Linked DNA regions of Homo sapiens: region 1 is linked to region 2. Evidence: fine-mapped expression QTL. A gene starts in region 2. The other region holds a variant in brackets. All regions are shown on one strand. Distances are between the middles of the regions. Region 1 has its middle 3.4 kb from the start of DRC2. Region 2 holds the start of ARF3 (ARF GTPase 3).

Region 1 (2,907 bases), 57 kb before region 2:
CACTCCAGCCTGGGCGACAGAGCAAGACTCCATCTCAAAAAAAAAAACAAACAACAACAACAATAAATAAATAAATAAAAATACAAAAATTAGCTAGGCATGGTGGCGCACACCTCTATTTCCAGCTACTCAGGAGGCTGAAGCAGGAGAATCGCTTGCACCCAGGAGACCAAGGTTGCAGTGAGCTGAGATTGCACCATTGCACTTCAGCCTGGGTGATAGAGTGAGACTCCGTCAAAAAAAAAAAAAAAAGAAAAAGAAAAATTGGAATATTACTTCACAATGGAGGTAAGTATGAGCATATCAAGGAGATTCCTTGATATACTAAGGAAGATTCCTTAGGTCATCTCAGTATTACTGTGACCTGTGATTAAGGTCAATGGAAAACTAGAACAAAACAATCCAGGACTACTAATGGCCCAGACCCTTCAGAAATGAAGCTTTGAGTCAGTCCATCAGGTAAAGAAACAGGTCAACACCTGTTAAGGTGCTTGCTGAAGGCAAAGGGAATAGGATAGTAGTAGAAAACGGTAGCTATTAATACCAGCTATGACCACGTGACCAGTTATGGACCCTAGGACTATGATTGCCATGAGTATTTCCTCATTTTGTTATTTATATGTTTATGTGTGTGTATATCAAGCAAATATCTTCATTTTCTTTTCTCTTTTATTCCCTCATAATGTAACATAAGATGTATTAACTTTATGTCATAGTTTTAAGTATTATTAATTTTGCATCATAATATCTGAGTTATGGGATATGAAGAAGAGTAAACATCACTCAAGGATTTTACCTCCTCTTCTGAGGAAGGGATTAGTGTTTTATTTTTCTTTTTGAGACCGGGTCTTGCTCTGTCACCCAGGCTGGGGTGCAGCATCAATGCAAAGCTTCGAAATGCAGGCTCAAGTGTTCCTCCCACCCCAGCCTCCTGAGTAGCTGGGACTACAGGTGTGTGCCACCATGCCCAGCTAATTTTTTTTTTTTTTTGAGACAGAGTCTTGCTCTGTCGCCAAACTGCAGTGCAGTGGCACAATCTCTGGCTCACTGCAACCTCCGCCTCCCGGGTTCCAGCAATTCTCCTGCCTTAGCCTCCAGAGTAGCTGGGACTACAGGCGTGTGCCACCACGCCCAGCTCATTTTTATATTTTTATGAGGGGTTTCACCATGTTTGCCAGGATGGTCTCGATCTCTTCACCTCGTGATCCGCCCGCCTCGGCCTCCCAAAGTGCTGGGATTATAGGCGTTAGTCACTGCGCC[C/T]GGCCTGTAATGGTTAATTTTATGTGTCAACCTCACTGAGCCACGGAGGGCCCAGACATTTGGTCAAACATTAATCTGGAGGTCAGGCACAGTAGCTTGTGCCTGTAATCCCAGCACTTTGGTTGGCTGAGGTAGGAGGATCGCTTGAAGCCAGGAATTTAAGACCGGCCAGGGCATCATAGCAAGACCCAGTCGCTACAAAAAAATTAAAATAAAAAAAAATAGTTGGCTGGGCACGGTGGCTCACGCCTGTAATCCCAGCACTTTGGGAGGCCAAGGTGGGTGGATCACCTGAGGTTAGGAGTTCCAGGAGTTCGAGACCAGCTGGCCAACATGGTGAAACCCCGTCTCTACTAAAAATACAAAAATTAGCTAGGCGTGGTGGTGGATGCCTGTAATCTCAGCTACTCCGGAGGCTGAGTCAGGAGAATTGCTGAAACCTGCGAGGCGGAGGTTGCAGTGAGCCAAGATCATGCCATTGCACTCCAGCCCAGGCTGACAACAGCAACAGCAAGACTATGACTAAAAAAAAAAAAAAACACTGAGTATGGTGGTGCACACCTGTAGTCCCAGCTACTCAGAAGGCTGAGGTGGGAGGATCCCTAAAGTCCAGGAGTTCGAGGTTGCACTGAGCTACAATTGCATCACTGTACTCCAGCCTGGGTGACAAAATGAGTTTTCTGTCTAAAGAAAAATAAACAAAAAAAAATTATTCTGGTTTTGTCTGTGAGGGTGTTTCCAGATGAGATTAATATTTGAATTGGATTGAGAATTAATTAGTGGTAGATTGAGTAAAGCAGATTGCCCTTGTAACATGGGTGAGCCTCATCCAATCATTGAAGACATGAATAAACCAAAAAGGCTGAGTAAAAGCAGCTCCTCCTGACTAACTGCCTAAGCTGAGGCAGTCTTTTCTGGCCTTCTGACTCAGACTGAAACTCAGACTCTTCTTGGACCTTGAGCTGGCTGGCTTTTAGTCTAGAACTACACATCGGTTCTCCTAAATCTCCAGGTTGCTAATTGCAGATCTTGGGACTTCTGAGCCTCCAATAATAACACCGATTGCTTATAATAAATAAATACACACATCCTATTGGTTCTGTTTTTCTGGAGAGTTCTGAGTAATGTATTATATTTCATATTTAAAACAACTTTATTGGGGCACATGTTGCATATCACATAATTCGCTTTTTTTTTTTTTTTTTAAATACGGAGTTTCGCTCTTGTTGCCCAGGCTGGAGTGCAATGGCACGATCTCAGCTCACCGCAACCTCCGCCTCCTGGGTCCAAGCGATTCTCCTGCCTCAGCCTCCTGAGTAGCTGGGATTACAGGCATGTGCCACCACGCCCAGCTAATTTTGTCTTTTTAGTAGCGATGGGGTTTCTCCATGTTGGTCAGGCTGGTCCCGAACTCCCGACCTTAGGTGATCCAACATGGTGAAACCCCATCTCTACTAAAAATACAAAAAATTAGCCGGGTGTGGTAGCGGGTGCCTGTAATCCCAGCTACTTGGGAAGCTGAGGCAGGAGAATCACTTGAACCTGGGAGGTGCAGGTTGCAGTGAGCCGAGACTGTGCCACCTCACTCCAGCCTGGGCAACAGAGAAAGACTCAGTCAAAAAAGGAGAGAGAGAGGGAGAGGGAGAG
Region 2 (2,907 bases):
CGGTGAAAAGCTGAACCTTAATGGATTAGTTTCTTTCTTAGAATGAACTTTTACAGACATGTTTTTCAAACTCAAGTCCAATGGGCTATGATAATCCACTGTCCCATAACACTGTCCCATGTCCCAAGTCACGGCAAGTGGAAACACCTACCCCAACAACAAGCCCAAGACAAAATAGCAGCAAAGACTGTTACTACCTACCTGATTGAGGACAGGGAAGGAGGTATGCAGCGACTAGATTCTGTCCTGTTGCACTGACCCAAGCAATCAGACTCTTGCAGCAGATCTCCTCCCAATAAAACTTTCATGCCATAGACCAGGGGTGACCCAATCCAACAACAGCAGAGACAGGTTTTAGGTTACATTTCTCCCTCACCGGGACGGCCTTACTATTTCTTCTCACTCCTGACCACATACCACAATCCTCCACCTCCACCACCACATTCCTCCTGGCCTGGAAAGATGGAGACCCGCCTTAATGCAATCAAGACGGGAATTCCCCCAAAATAACAGCTACCACTTTGCTAATCAAGTGGCCCGTTTTAACAGGGAACTCCACCTCCCCAACTCCCGCCCCTTCCCTCAAACGATTCGCGTAAGCAATGGCTCCATTTTCTGTTCCGGGAATCCTGGTACTTCCTAAAGAAAGAAAGCGGATTGGAAGACACAAACTGAGGGCCAGTGACAAGATGCTCCCTCCTCCTGTGAGACCGCCCCCGCTCCGCCTGGGGAGGAAGGCCCCACCTCTCTTCTCCCAGGAAGATCAGATCCCCCTCCTCCTTCTCCTGCCTCCTCTCCACCCTCTCCCCACTTGCTGCCCTCTTCCCAACCTGCGGTTCCCTAGACTCGAAAGCGCAACCTCTACCACAATAGCGCCCATGTGGTGCCCCAGCAGCCTGCCCTGTTGGCTAACCCCCAACCCCCCTACGCACCCCTGCCCTATGATGGGGGAGGGGGTGTAACCACAGCAAGGCTTCTCTCCCGTCTCCTATTGCTAAGGTGGGGGAGGGAGAGGGAGTAGAAGAAAGCAGCATTCCCTAGCCCTTTAACAGAAAAGATACAAACAGCCATCACCGCCCCCTCATCACCTCTCCTCGGACGGTTTTCCTCTCCCTCAACAGCACACCTCCTGCAGGCGACAACCTAACTGCAGCCCAGGTCGCCCCCTTGAGCGAGGCGGAGGACAAATCCGTGTGCGCCCCCCACCCCCACCCCAGCTCTGCGTCCTTCAAATGCGGGGGCAGGCGTGAAGCTGGCCCGACGCACCCTCTCTGAGCTCTCGGGTGGGAAGAATCCCACCGCCCCACGCCAAGCAGTGCCGGGCGGGGCCCGGGAGGCGCTCTATCTCCTCAGCCCTCACCCTGACCGAGCCTCTTCTCTACCGGGACCCGCCTTCCCTTCCCAGCCTCTCACCTGTTCCTGCTATCAGCTGCGCCGCTGCGGCCGCCGCCTCTGCCCCGCAGGTTCCGCTCCGCTCCCTCTGGCTCCCCAAGCCGACTTCAGCCCGGCTGCTGCCCTGGCCCACTCCCCGGCTCCCTCCTTCCTTCCCTCCACCTAGCACCGGAAGCCGCGACGGCGACTGGAGCTGTGCGGCGTACCCCCACCCCCAGCCCGGGATACTTCCCACCTCCCCGATCGCGCGATAGCTGCGCGGTAGCTAGCGGCAGTTCTCGCGAGACCCATCACCATGGCAGCGGCTGCAGCACCGGCGGCCGGGCGCTGGAGCTGGAGTCAGGGCGGGGGCAGGTGTGGGGGCTGTGGGCGGCGGAGGCGGGAGCCGTGAATGGGGATGAGACAGTGAGGACTGAGGTGACAATCCCAAGCTCCAGGGTTGTGCCTGGAATTTAAGGACTGAGGCGGCAAGTTGGCTGCGTAGGAGACGGGCTGGGCTGCGGGGCCCAGGGGCTCCTTGGGCAAAGCCAGCATCGGGATATGGGTGAACAGTCGTTGCTGTGGCATGCCTTACCCAGCCAGACTTCATCTTTATTTCTTAATCTGGGCTAGCTGCCATCCCCTGAAAGCCCTCACCGCACCATTGTTGTTGCTCACTATTCCTGAGACTAGATTACTGTGGGGTCTGAATCAAGAGATCCTTTCCCATAAGGAAGAGGAAGGAGAGTGATGAACTTAAGAGGCTAAAGGAAAACAGCTGGACTCTGAGCCAGTTAAGTTGGAACTTGAAAGACGGAGAGTGGAAACCTAATATTCAGAAGTGTGGTTTGAGGAAGTGTGCCTAGATGAGTAGGGATTTTAGTATCCCAAGGAAAGGTGAAGGACTTTGCACCCATATTTCTTGCTTCCTACCCACTCCTACTTCCCTCACACTCCGTTTTGCACCTGGTCTAGACATGCAGAACTGCCTTGAAACAAAAATAGCTGTGATAGAAGGGCACTAGTAATGCTAAGAACAGAAGGTTCCTTTTTTTTTTTTTTTTTTTGAGACAAGAGTCTCACTCTGTCGCCCAGGCTGGAGTGCAATGGCACCATCTTGGCTCACTGCAACCTCTGCCTCCCGGGTTCAAGCGATTCTCCTGCCTCAGCCTCCTGAGTAGCTGGGATTACAGGCGTGAGCCACCGCGCCCGGCCAATAGAAGGTTCTCTAAGTGCCCTCTCTCCTCATTTACAGCAGTATAAGGGAATGAACACATGGCTCTTCCCTAAGGCTTGAGCCCAAATTGTTGCTCTTATGAATTTATTGCCTTGGTTGATTTTGTTTGTTTGTTTCCTTGCTTCCAAGAAGAACTAAGCTGGGGCCAGGCCCTGTGTTCACACTTGTAATCCCAGCACTTTGGCAGGCTGAAGTGGGCAGATCACTTAAGGTCAGGAGTTTGAGACCATCCTGGCCAATATGGTGAAACCCTGTCTCTACCAGAAAATACAAAAATTAGCCGGGCATGGTGGCACATA

The links. PIP is the estimated chance that this variant, and not a neighbour inherited with it, causes the effect.
Region 1: its variant is fine-mapped to the expression of ARF3 in whole blood (TOPMed, PIP 0.95).

The regions. Positions count from the first base shown.
Region 1 is chr12:48,899,283-48,902,189 of GRCh38, forward strand. No RefSeq gene overlaps it. Among named protein-coding and RNA genes, the nearest start is that of DRC2, 3.4 kb to the right of the region's middle. RefSeq lists a silencer at 2,130-2,330. The variant C/T (reference allele first, on the strand shown) is at 1,261.
Region 2 is chr12:48,955,897-48,958,803 of GRCh38, forward strand. It overlaps ARF3 (ARF GTPase 3), which reads right to left and starts at 1,591. Exons shown (of 5, transcript NM_001659.3): 1 at 1,414-1,591. RefSeq lists enhancers at 1-783, 839-918.